Linked DNA regions of Homo sapiens. The protein of the gene in region 4 purifies or fractionates together with the protein of the main gene of each other region. This does not show direct contact. Each region holds a gene or a part of one and is shown on either strand. Other genes may lie near its edges.

The links.
Region 1: the proteins of SLC35E2B (region 4) and RAB18 purify together in Homo sapiens (affinity purification with mass spectrometry; one large-scale study listed by BioGRID and IntAct). This does not show direct contact.
Region 2: the proteins of SLC35E2B (region 4) and ERLIN1 purify together in Homo sapiens (affinity purification with mass spectrometry; one large-scale study listed by BioGRID and IntAct). This does not show direct contact.
Region 3: the proteins of SLC35E2B (region 4) and RAB6A purify together in Homo sapiens (affinity purification with mass spectrometry; one large-scale study listed by BioGRID and IntAct). This does not show direct contact.

The regions. Positions count from the first base shown.
Region 1 is NC_000010.11:27,531,804-27,535,303, forward strand, and holds part of RAB18 (ras-related protein Rab-18), read left to right. Parts: intron 1-703; coding exon 704-776; intron 777-1,931; coding exon 1,932-2,050; intron 2,051-2,124; coding exon 2,125-2,191; intron 2,192-3,500. UniProt on the Homo sapiens protein: The small GTPases Rab are key regulators of intracellular membrane trafficking, from the formation of transport vesicles to their fusion with membranes.
Region 2 is NC_000010.11:100,165,530-100,169,029, forward strand, and holds part of ERLIN1 (erlin-1), read right to left. Parts: intron 1,878-3,500; coding exon 1,819-1,877; intron 1-1,818. UniProt on the Homo sapiens protein: Component of the ERLIN1/ERLIN2 complex which mediates the endoplasmic reticulum-associated degradation (ERAD) of inositol 1,4,5-trisphosphate receptors (IP3Rs).
Region 3 is NC_000011.10:73,675,138-73,678,106, forward strand, and holds the end of RAB6A (ras-related protein Rab-6A), read right to left. Parts: intron 2,826-2,969; coding exon 2,761-2,825; 3' UTR 501-2,760; downstream 1-500. UniProt on the Homo sapiens protein: The small GTPases Rab are key regulators of intracellular membrane trafficking, from the formation of transport vesicles to their fusion with membranes.
Region 4 is NC_000001.11:1,679,296-1,682,795, forward strand, and holds part of SLC35E2B (solute carrier family 35 member E2B), read right to left. Parts: intron 1-3,500. UniProt on the Homo sapiens protein: Putative transporter.

The DNA.
Region 1 (3,500 bases), on a different chromosome or scaffold from region 4:
CAACAAATTCTGAGCAACTGCCTTTTTTCAAGAATTGGTCTCAGCACAATGGTTAAACTGGTGATTAAACAGATGAGTCCCTGCTTTATGAAATTTACATTTTCTACCTAGTGTACATTGTTCACTAACCCTAACATGAGTCAGAAATAACATGTAATAAAGAATGGCTTGGTTATATGCATTTTCTCAAAAGGAGATACATAGAAAACACTTAAAAGAGCCCAACCTAAAAATCTGTTACCTAAAGTAAGACATCCCATAATTTTCTTCAAATCAGTGGTTCTCAGCCTTGATTCTACATTAAAAGCACCTGGTAAGATTTAAAAAAAAAAAAATTCCTGTCATTACCTTAGACCAATTAAGCAGAAATTTTTTGGAAGCTAGACTCAAGATTCCCAGAAAATTTCATTGTGCAGCTGGAGTTTAGAACCATGGGTTTCATTTCATGTATGATAAAAGTCTTAAATTCAAAACAGCAGAAAACCTTTACATAGTTTCATTTTTCTAGAGATCAGTATTTATAAATAATTTTATTTTGTGACACTTGTCAGTAAGCGAACACATCTTATTTAAGTTCCAGTTTTTTAATGAGCTCATGCATTAATACTATTTTTAGTAATGCTGTTTGACTTTCTACTCTTAAACTAGTATATTGAAGGTCTATTTATACTTTGTTTAATTTAATAATAATGATCATTTTTAGGATACTGCTGGTCAAGAGAGGTTTAGAACATTAACTCCCAGCTATTATAGAGGTGCACAGGGTGTTATATTAGGTAAGTGTTTACTTTAATGTACTATTTAAAAATATTTATTGGAGTTTCTGATTGTCCTAGTCTGTGAAAGTTAATATGTCTTTGTTTTACTTCTCGTTAGAGCTACTTTTATGTAACTTGTAGTTGTATTAACTTCATGTAATATTAATGAATATTAAAACTTTTGATTTTAGTCTTGTCTAGCACTTAAAAAATAGACAAGGCTAATTTATTTGGTTTGAAAACACATGTCAATGAGAACGTAATTGAGGATTAATCAGCATATGTTGGACTGTCTTGGAGTATTACAGAAACTGGGCTTCTGTTATCAGCATATTAATATTTGCTGTAGTTTATAAAGGACGAAAAGTATTTGTTGATTAGTAGAATCTGCTTTATTAGTCCTAAAAATATCACAAAGCACTTAACACTATTGATTTATAATCAAACAAAATTTAGAAACCAGATGTGGATTCTCAGTGTAATTTGTTGAAAAGTGCTTGTTCTTGATATTCCTGGGAAACTGTTTAAAATGAATATTGATCAATTGTATTAATAGGTAGAATTCTCTTTTTTTAAATATTATGGCTTGGTAGTGACAGCCTTTTGGTTCAGCATCTCTTGAGTTTATAAAACACTTTAATAAGGTTTTTGTTATAATGCAGAATGACATAAGATGAAAGTGATAACAGGAAGACCACCAGGAACCCATCTACTAACTGTACTACAATTTTTTCAAAGCTGTAAATTTTGGTTCTTGTAATAAACAAATTAATGGGGTCATAGATGTTTACATTCATGTATTTTTTTTTTAATATTTTGCCACAGATTTGAATCTAAACACTCTGGTTTTTGGATAGACCTCATTCATCATTATGAATGGGAATAGCTGTTGTTTTGCTTTAATGGGTATTAAATGTGTTTTCACTTATTACACAGGATATAATTTCATTTCTGTGACAGTATATGTTAATAGGATTGAAATGTGTATGCTTTAAAAAAAAAACACTTGTTTCTTCCATTTGGATCAGTAGACACTCAATATTAATCGTTGAAGACAATAAAAAAAAGACTTGTCTATATTGCTTAGTAATGCTAACTCCTAGCTACATATCAGAAATACGCCATTGCTTCTTTCTTTAATGCTTATTTAACAAATGACTCCTTTTATTTCAGTTTATGATGTCACAAGAAGAGATACATTTGTTAAACTGGATAATTGGTTAAATGAATTGGAAACATACTGTACAAGAAATGACATAGTAAACATGCTAGTTGGAAATAAAATCGATAAGGTAAGAAGGCAGACACTTGGCATTTTGGTTCTATATTTTGGTAGCCTTTCTTAATCATTGCATTTATATTTTAGGAAAATCGTGAAGTCGATAGAAATGAAGGCCTGAAATTTGCACGAAAGCATTCCATGTTATTTATAGGTAGGTGTGTGAATGAATATCTGTCCTTTCATTATTAATGAGGAATTTTTGAATGGAGTTTTTGCCAAGTTTATTTCTTTATGAACCATAAAATGTGTTTAGAGTATTGTTCCTAGTTGCCTTGTGTTACAAAATCTAACTATATAACAAGGTTCTTTATTCTTCTTCCTGTAAAATGTATGATCATATTATGTGAAATCATATTAAAAAACAGTCAAATCATTCCTCACAGGATATAGTGGCATTCAGTAAAGTTTGGCACCCAGTGCTAAAGTTATGCCTTGCTGGTCCATATGCTGATACCATCAGCACCACCTGGGAGCTTGTTAGCAGTGCTTCAGCTCAGGCCCTACCCCAGATTTTCTGAATTAGAATCTGCATTTTAACAAGCTCTTCATATGGTTTGTATGCACATTAATTTTTGAGAAACATGGTCCAGCAAGAGTTGCCAAACTACAGCCTGGTCCAAATCTGGCCCCACCATTTGTATTGGTACACAGCCATGTCCATGTGTTTACATGTTGTCTGTAGCTGCTTTTGTGCCATATGGCAGAGTTTAGTAGTTACAACAGAGGCCATACGGCCCACGAAGCCTAAATATTTTCTATCTGGCCCTTTACAGAAAGAGTTTGCCAACCCCTCATCTAGAAAATTGGATGAGCTATGTCAGAATCACCTGGGCCCTGTGCCTTATTACAGGTTTGAAAGGCAGTTTATTGAAAGCACTCTAGTTGATTCTGATGTGAAGCCAGCTTTAGGAATTACGGATTTAACCATTCCATGGCGTTAGAAGCTACCAGGAATCTGCAAATGAAGTTGAGAGGACTTCATATATAGATAAAAACAGAATGGAATTAGTGGAAAGTATTGAGATTTTCAGAAAGGAATCGAGTACTTTTACTTGCTGTATGTCCCTCATTTCCATACATTAGTTTACCCAATATTTATTGAACACTCAAGATGTAACAGTGGACAAAACTGACAAACTTTCTGCCCACATGGAGCTTACATTCTAGTAAGGGAGACAGACTTAAATAAGTAAGTAGTGCTATGAAGGAAATAAAACATTATAAGGGGAGAGAGAATGACTGGAGTGGGGACTGCTTAGGGAAAGTTCTTAGAGGCTGTCCCATTTGAGCAGAAATCCCTCAGGTGAGGATCTAGAGCAAGCTTGTCCAACTCATGGGCTGCATGTGGCCCAGGATGGCTTTGAATGTGGCCCAACACAAATTTGTAAACTTCCTTAAAACATTATGAGATTTTGTGCTTTTTTTTAAGTTCCAGCTATCATTAGTGTTATTGTATGTTA
Region 2 (3,500 bases), on a different chromosome or scaffold from region 4:
GCGCCCACCACCATGCCTGGCTAATTTTTTGTATTTTTAGTAGAGACGGGGTTTCATTGTGTTAGCTAGGATGGTCTCGATCTCCTGACCTCGTGATCCGCCCACCTTGGCCTCCCAAAAGTGCTGGGATTACAGGCATGAGCCACCGCACCCAGCCTAAGCAATCATATTTAAAGCCTAAGACATGCTGACAGTTTAATAAAATTTTCTTTTTGAGACAGAGTTTCGTTCTTTTGCCCAGGTTGGAGTGCAATGGCGTGGTCTCGGCTCACTGCAACCTCTACCTCCCCGGTTGAAGCGACTCTCCTACCTCAGCCTCCCCAGTAGCTGGGATTATAGGTGCCTGCCACCATGTCCAGCTAATTTTTCTATTTTTACTGGAGACAGGGTTTCACCATGTTGGCCAGGCTGGTCTCAAACTCTTGAACTCAGGTGATCCGCCGGCCTCAGCCTCCTGAAGTGCTATGATTATAGGCATAAGCCACCACAGCCCGCCTATAAATATTTTTTCAATAAGTGGATCACATCCATAATCTACCCAGCCTGGCAGTCTACATTTTATACTTTTAAAAGAAGAGTTCTTTGTCTACAATGAAAAAGAGAAAACAGGCTGGGTGTGGTGACTCAAGCCTGTAATCCCAGTACTTTGGGAGGCCAAGGCAGGAGGACTGCTTGAGCCCAGGAGTTTGAGACCAGGCTGGGCAACAGGGCAAAACTCCGTCTCTATGAAAAATACAAAATTTAGCTAGGTGTGGTGGCATGCACTGGTAGTCCCAACTACTCAGGAGGCTGAGGTGGGAGGATCGCTTAATCACTTGAGCCTGGGAGGTTGAGACTGCAGTGAGCCGTGATTGTGCCACTGCACTGCAGTCTGGGCAACAGAGCAAGACCTTGTCTCAAAAAAAAAAAAATTAAGAAAAAGAGAAATAAAACTCTGTATGAGCTCAGAGAAGGTATGAGGGAAAAGGAAAATATAAAAGAAGAAAAAAACAATAAAAATCTGCATGGTAACAAAAAGGACTCAGAAGTAAACAACCTCATAAAGTAGTATTACTGCTCCTTGGACTTCCAGTATTTATACATCTGTGGTATCCTTGACTTGTGCAAATTTATTTTTCCAGCGTCTTATACTTTCCCTTTTAACACATCAGCCAAATTTCCTAAAGACTTTTATTTCTTCTTTTCAGTACCAGTCATACGAAAACAATATTGCCATTTCAAACACAGTAAGTATTCCCCTAAAAGGGATCCTGTCAGAAACTAATTTCATGTCTTCTCATTCCCAGTCAGCCCTGGATACATAAAAGAGAAGACTACCAGGAGTCAACAGAAGCAAGGCTTCCCTAGAGGCACATTATAAAGAACCAGGTCTAATTTTAGATATACAATCACATACAATGGAAAACCAAACTTTATACCAACAAGGTATCTATTCCTACCATTACAACACAGAAACAAAATATGAGCACTCTCTTCAACCCTAACGGCTTCAGGACTCTTTCCTCTATTAAATATTTAATTCAAGGTACTATTCATATAAAATTATAGCTCCTTAAGCTTCCAGCAATAGTTTTACAGCAAACTGCATCTTTAGCCACTGAAACTGCTCCTGAAATGTCCATACATAAAGAGAACACTAGTAAGAGTCTAGTGGGAATTAAGACACAAGAATAGGCAATATTACTAGAGTAAGAGTAAAGAAGATAAGACACATACTCCACCCCAGAGTGTATTGTCTCACATGTTTCCTCTAGACTGGAATATTAATATGCAGACAGCCCTAAACAGAAATATTGGGATCCCATGCATATTACTCACATTAACTCAAAATTTCTTCTTATGGCTTCTGGGATTTTGGGTTTTGTAACACGCACAGCCTAAAAAATAAAAGTGAAAAAGCCAAAGTATATTTGAAAGATAAATCTTCAAATTAAATCTTCTACAGAAAAGCCCCTCAAATGATACTAATCTAATAAACAACAGCTATAATATAGCGGCCTACTAACACGTTTGGGGATCCCACCAGAACATTTACTTTTCATGCCATCACACCAAGAATCAAAGACAAGCTGCTTCTTATTTCCTTACACAATGCCAGATTACAGGAAAAACCATCTACCCACTGAGGAAACAACTGCCTTATGAAAAAGGTTCTCACTTAAAAGATGTTTTACAAAGGTCGTTAGATACTTTTGCTTTCTTTTTCAACCCTGTAAACCAAAGAAGCCGGGAAGGCAAAGTTCCAAGACTGAAATTGTAAAGTCAGAAACAATTAGTCAAATACAAAAACAAACAAAAAAACCCAGGTTGGTGTATACAATTTAATACAGTGAGTAGTGAGTAAATTAATCTATCACTTCCAACCCCTGCAATCACTTGGTATTTGCTGTAAGTAAACAGCCCACTGGCTGAAGGAAAACAAATATCAATTAAAAGCTTATATTCTTTCTTCCTTAACTCTCACTTAGAACAAAGTCTGTCTTTGTAGAGGCTGTTTACCAGACACTTTGTTTCCCTAATCATAGTGTTCTTTGACACAATTAAGATTATCTACCTGGACAGTACTGTTTTTTGAAGGCTGACTTTTCTACATCAAGGACTTGATCTCTCAAAAGCTTTTGATTTTACTAAACATACGATACCCCGCCGCCCCACCTATACTGCAAACACACACAAAAAACACTTTGCTGGTCTGAAGAAGTTTTCCTTCTGAAAACTGGCTAACCTTTTAAGAATAACAAAGCCTTTAAGCACTTAGTCTTCTTTAAAGGCTTTTAAAACTTTTAAGCGATATAGCATTTCCTATATGAAATAGATGAGTCAAATTTGTAGGTAATTTTGAGGACAATCATAACTAAATATAAGGATTACAGTGGAATGGAATAAGCAGCTGAAGGCTGTGTGGAAAAAACTCACAACACACTGGCAGTGACACATGTGAGGCCTCACAACTCAGTGGAGACATGCAGAAGACAAATAAAAATTCAGGACCAGATTTTGTGAGATGTCAGATTTCACCATGTGACTAGCAGACATAAGATTACTTCCAATATGGATTAATATGATTCAAGGAAGCACTGTCATACTGCATTTAATTAAGAGACTGGCCACATATCTTTTTAGCCTTATTAAAAGAAGCGTAAAGTAGGACTTTTTTTTTTTTTTTTGAGATGGAGTTTTGCTCTTGTTACCCAGGCTGGAGTGCGGTGGTGCAATCTCAGTTCACTGCAACCTCCGCCTCCCAGGTTCAAGCGATTCTTCTGCCTCAGCCTCCTTAGTTGCTGGGATTACAGGCATGCGCCACCAAGCCCGACTAATTTTTGTATTGTTTTTTAGTAGAGACAGGGTTTCACTGTGTTGGTCAAGCTGGTCTCGAACTCCTGAACTCAGGTGATCCAACCACCTCGGCCTCCCAAAGTGCTGGGATTACAGGCGTGAGCCACCACACTCGGCCAGGACTGTCTTTTGAAGACTCCTATTTTGCTGAATGAGGCTGAAGA
Region 3 (2,969 bases), on a different chromosome or scaffold from region 4:
TGTCCCAAGGCAGGGGTTGCCCTTTTCTCTGTAAAGGGCCAGATAGTAAACAGTTTTTTGGGTTTTAGGGCCATAAGGTCTGTGGCAGCTATTAAGCTCTGCCATTATAGTGGGAAAGTATGGCTGAGTTCCAATAAAACTTAATTTTTAAAACTGGTTCCAGGCTGCATTTGGTGGGAGGGCCACAGTTTGCTGGCTCCTGTCCCAAGGCAAAGGTATAGTTAGGAGTGAGGACGCAAAAGCAGAACTTAAGATGCTTTTCTTAATATGTCCTATTACTGCCTCCACCAGGGGATGTATCTTTCAAGTTGCAGCCCCTCTCCCCCACCCCCCAACAATACCCCCATCAAAAAAAGAGTCTTTGACTCCCTAGGAGTTCCTCACATTTGTTGTTGTTATTTTTCTGGATTCTGTCCATGTCTGCTTTAAAGGTCTTCCCAGAGAGGGAGAAGTAAATGCTAATTCACCATCTTGGCAGGAATGGGAAACCAGGTCAATAATTGTTTTCTTTCGTGTTTTATTTATATATTTTTGGCAGCAAAATTGTGTTTATTAAAAAAAAAACCTGGACTATGAACACACTTCAATGCTTTGAAGAACTCCAAGCCAAATAAAAAGACCAATCAATATTAAAAGCAGTATAACTGGTTACTTTCTTAAAAATACATAAAAAGAATCAAATGCAACAGTGTAGGAAGACAATCACACCCATGTCAGAAGTCACAACTTCTTCCAAATAAAGAATATGACCCATCTGCCATATTGAATCAATATTTATTTCAGGACATGCCATGTCAAAATAAAACAAAGAGTCAACCCTTGCCTTTAACAATTATATTGTATTATAAAAGCACTTTACAACTCCATCCCATCTTTAAGTATAAGTTACTGGTATGTGGGCTAATGATTATCTGTAAGCATTTCTCTATTCAGATCCATAATCCAAGTGCTCTCTGAATATTACAAGGTGACAATAAGTGGGAAGTGGAGGAGGAAGAGGAAAGAGAGGGGACTAAGGTTCTCCCAGTTTAAGGTTTTGTTCCAATGAGGGGATGAGGAAGTATGAAGATATTTTTGTTGTCTTTTCATCTTTATACTGTGTTAAGTAATGCTTACAACATAAATTCAGCAGGCTTTTCCTGAGCTGTAACTCAGAAGTTTTCGTCCTGCAAACAATGTATTTACAAATGTGTTTATTAGCTTACACAGCAATCTCACAATAACTAGTAAAGATTAAAAGGGCACACTCCTAGTATATTTGTTTGCAGTGTTTTAAGGGAAATACATATTGCCATGGTGAAGCTCTAAATAGATTCAACGAAACATCTGAAGATTGAAAGTTGTTAAAAAAAAAAAAGGCAAAGAAATAAATATCACCAAAGAAAAAAGATTAATTGTAGCTTAAATATAAAACTAAATCACCAGTTAATTAAACTATACAGATCTAATACAAACCAAAACCAGCCTGAAAGACCCAACCTTAAAAAATGCTAAAAAATAAGGCATAAATCTGCATAATATTGAGTTTTATTTCCATTCTCTCCTTTCCCTCTACTATGTATGCTTTACCTGATCTGCCTCTAGGGGCTTACAAGAAAACGGTTTCCGGTTTCCGTCTTCAATTTGACCTCAAATGTCCTGAGCAAAGTTTTTGTTATTCTGCTGAGGGTTCTTTTGTTGGTAAGCTTTAGACATCATTATTTCTACTAATTCAGTAGTTTTGATCGTAGCGCCAAATTTAAATTCTTCCACTGGTTCTTCTGGAAGGAATTAAAACTTTTACAGTGCCTTGCCTGCACAGTATTATGTTTTTAAAAAAGAAAACCCAAGCAAAATCTATTGCTTAAAGAGGTTTCTTATTTTTTAAACAAACAGAATAACTCTTGACAATTTTAAAACCTTGGGAGAAACAGTTCATTAGAACTTCATTTTCTTACCGTGAAGAATTAAATACTAAAAACCTGTTCTGAAGCACTTGGTTAATTTTCTCTCCCAGAGTCTAATAAAGCACATGTGAAAGAGCCATTTGTTTTAGTCAGAAATACATCTTATGTTCTTCTACTTCTAAGTACTCAGTATGTTCTTTAGGACTCATTTTGAAGATGCACCAGGAGCCTTTTCTCATTCAAGCACTGCCTACCATGATGGCTGAATTTTGACCTCAAAGAAGACCGTAATTTATATCAGTGCTCAAGAATAATTTTGGACATCTTGGTCCGTAGCCTACAGCAAGTGGTATCTGTAAAATTAAAGGATAATTCCAATGGGCTTGGTAGAACTGCTGCTTTGCCATCTCTTGTTTGTTTTGAGGAAGTCGGGGGAGGCTAGGTAAGAATAGGGTAATAGGGAATGGGGGTAAGTGAGAGGTGAGAAAAGCAAGGAGAGATAAAGTAGGCTGTGAACATACCGCTCGTTAACCAAGCCATACTCATACTGTTGAGATTTCCATCATTTTGAAGTACATTATCATAACATTAAAAAAGAAAAAAATGTTAAGAAAATGTATCTAATTTTTAAAGTTATCACTGGAATATGCTGAAATATTTTGGCTTTTTGTAAAATATAAATAATGAAGACACTGACTTTTGTTGTGCTTGTGAAGCTAATAGATCATCTCCACGAGACAGGCAGCAATGATGAATTGCAATACGTTATTACTGAAGGGAAAAGGTTCAAGCCAATATTCACACTGCAGTCAATGAAAGAGTAAGGGGGCCAAAGCAGTGAGCTTCTGAAGAAGGTTGAAGATGACATGGGAGATTAGCAGGAACAGCCTCCTTCACTGACTGGTTGCTCCTGAGGCTTTTCCAGTTTTATGTCAATCACTGAAACAAAAGTTAAGAAGCCATAAATGGGAAAGTACAATTTCAATTCTTCCAAACACTAGCATTTCTGGGATGGCCCTTATATTCCTATCTGTCTTCAGAGCCTACACACTCACTATTTTCTACATAGCCGCCTCACCATAT
Region 4 (3,500 bases):
CTTGCCAGAACAGTCTGTCCACTTAGCTTCCCTCTGAGAAACTCACAGCATCCCAGGCAAAACTGCTCCCCGCAATGAGGACCCCCATTCCCCTTCTCTGCTGACACTGTGCTCCAAGAAGCCTGTGGGACCCACACAAGCAGCCCAGTCCCCACCCTAATGTTTGCTCACAATTAGTGGAAACAAAAAAACAGAAATCACACTTCACTGACGCTGCCGTTCTCTGTACATCAAGAACTTAAGGTTCTGGGCCAGGCGCCGTGGCTCACACCTGGAATCCCAGCACTTTGGGAGGCCAAGGTGGGCGGATCACCTGAGCTCAGGAGTTCATGACCAGCCTGGCAAACACAGCAAAACCCCGTCTCTACTAAAAGTACAAAAAAAAAATCAGCCGGGTGTGGTGGCTGGCACCTGTAATCCCAGCTACTCGGGAGGCTGAGGCAGGAGAATCACTTGAACCTGGAAGGCAGAGCTTGCAGTGAGCTGAGATCGCGCCATTGCACCCCAGCCTGAGCAACAGAGCGAGACTCCCGTCAAAAAAAAAAAAAAAAAAAATGCTGGGCGCGATGGCTCACACCTGTAATCCCAGCACTTTGGGAGGCCGAGGAGGGTGGATCATGAGGTCAGGAGTTCAAGACCAGCCTGACCAACGTGGAGAAACCCCGTCTCTACTAAAAATACAAAATTAGCCGGGCGTAGTGGATGCCTGTAATCCCAGCTACTCAGGAGGCTGAGGCAGGAGAATCGCTTGAACCCGGGAGGCGGAGGTTGCGGTGAGCCGAGATCACACCGTTGTACTCCAGCCTGGGCAACAAGAGTGAAACTCCGTCTCAAAAAAAAAAAATTTTTTTTTAATGTAGCCGGGCATGGTGGTGCATGTCTGTAGTCCTAACTACTTAGGAGGCTGGGGTGGGAGGATTGCTTGAACAAGAGAGGTCAAGGCTGCAGTGAGCCGTGATTGTGCCACTGAACTCCAGCCTGGGCAACAGAGCAAGACCCTGACTCTAAAAATTAAAAAAAAGTTAAAAAAAATTAAAAGAGCTTAAACAAGAAGCCGACTGCAAACAAAGGCCTCTCCATGCAGCTGCGCTGGGACGCGGGTTCTCTGTCCGATCACTGCACAGCAGCCCACTGGACAAATGGACCCATTCTGGCAAGAAGCACTTGGGACGGGCTACTAGGAGCATCCTCGTCTGTGTCTACGTGCAGGAGTGGAACTGCCCAGCCCTGGGACACGCATGCTGAGCCCCAGCCAACGTCACACCGACCTGTGCTCCCACAGCCCTGCCCCGGCTCTGTGTGGGTGACTGTCCCGTCCCTGCAGTTGAGCCCACGTGGTCCCGGGGTCTCCATTCCCCTCCCAATCTGCAGGACTTCACTACCATGAACCGTCCTCACCCCCAGCATCCCTGTCCCCACAGCTCCAAGGCCGCAGGAGGAGGCGATATCTAATCTTCCCCCCACGTAAACACCTGTCCCTGCGTAAATGCCTGAGGCTGGCTGCTTATTCTTTTTTTTTTTTTTTTAGATGGAATCTCGATCTGTCGCCCAGGCTGGAGTTTAGTGGCATAATCTCGGCTCACTGCAACCTCCACCTCCCAGGTTCAAGGGATTCTCCTGCCTCAGCCTCCCGAGTAACTGGGATTACAGGCGCCTGCCACCACGCCCAGCCGCTTCTTATTCAAACACTGGGAGCTCCACGTCAGACCAGTGAAGTCAGAGAATCCTGAAGTCCAAGTTCTCAGCTCCTCAGCCAACTCAAGGGCAGCCAGGCAGGAGCCACCCCTGCAGAGGCACCCACGGTTCGTTCCTGTCACTGACTGTTCCCAGGCTGGAAATTCCTGACGGTACAAATGCAAACAGATTCCGGCCTGAAACTGTCTAGTGAGACCTTTCTTTCCTTTTCCTTTTCTTTTTTTCGAGATAGAGTCTCGCTCTGTCAGCCAGACTGGAGTGCAATGGCATGATCTTGGCTCACTGCAAGCTCTGCCTCCTGGGTTCACACCATTCTCCTGCCTCAGCCTCTGAAGTAGCTGGGACTACAGGCGCCCGCCACCACGCCTGGCTAATTTTGTTTTTTTTTGTATTTTTTTAGTAGAGACAGGGTTTCACCATGTTACCCAGGATGGTCTCGATCTCCTGACCTCGTGATCCACCCACCTAGGCCTCCCAAAGTGCTGGGACTACAGGCGTGAGCCACCGCGCCCGGCCTCTTTTCTTTTCTTTTTTGAGAGGGACTCTTACTCTGTCGCCCAGGCTAGAGTGCAGTGGCACAATCTCAGCTCACCGTAGCCCCCACTTCTTGGATTCAAGGGATTCGCATGCCTCAGCCTCTCGGGCAGCTGGAATTATAGGCATGCGCCACCAAGCCTGGCTAATTTTTGTACTTTTAGAAGAGATAGGATTTAGGCCGGGCGTGGTGGCTCACGCCTGTAATCCCAGCACTTTGGGAGGCTGAGGCAGAGGGATCCCGAGGTCAGGAGATGGAGACTATCCTGACTAACACTGTGAAATTCTGTCTCTACTAAAAATACAAAAAATTAGCCAGGCGTGGTGGCGGGCGCCTGTAGTCCCAGCTACTCAGGAGGCTGAGGCAGGAGAACGGTGTGAACCCGGGAGGTGGAGCTTGCAGCGAGCCGAGATCGCGCCACTGCACTCACTCCAGCCTGGGCGACAGAGCAACACTCTGTCTCAAAAAAAAAAAAAAAAAAAAAAAAAAAAAAAAAAAAAAAAAAAAAAAAAAAAGAAGAGACAGGGTTTCACCATGTTGCCCAGGTTGGTCTCAATCTCCTGACCTCATGTGATTCGCCCGCCTTGGCCTCCCATAGAACTGGGATTACAGGCATGAGTGACCGTGCCCGGCTGGGTGCAACCTTTCAGAGGTCATGCGGGTGACAGGGAGCGACAAAAAACAAGAAAATAAAGCACTTCGCCGAGGCTGACTTGGGTCACAGAGGGCCAAACGGTCCCGGGAAAATGGGTGGGCTCTTCACACCTTCTCATAGAAGTCTTGGAGGTGGGTGTTTAATGAGCATTTTTTGTTAGTAGCAAAACAAGACAAAGCAAACACCAAAAGAATGCCAACCTACGTGCCTGTCAACAGTAGAAACAAACACCTTATTGATGGAGCTGAAGCTACGATGGAAATGAGGGGCTCAGTCCCAGTGTCAAAGGGACGGACCCCAAGCCCAAACCCACCGGAGCGGGGGAAGACTGAGGGACGAATCACAGACAGAAACGCACGACTCGGCTCCACCATGCGCTGTCAGCTGTGCGGGAAGCACCACGTGTAGAAATAAAAGCATGAAAGTGCCTGAAAGAGGGAATTCCAGCACGTGCTCCTCTCATCTCGGGGACGGGCCCCAGGGGAAAGCAACAGCACCTTCAGGTGCTGGAACCCAGCTGAGCAGCCAGGGGGTTCCGGGGTCCTCCCTAAGTAGTTGTGAGAGATCACAGCCCGGGGTCCTTCCTAAGTAGTTCCGAGAGTTCAAGGTTTACAT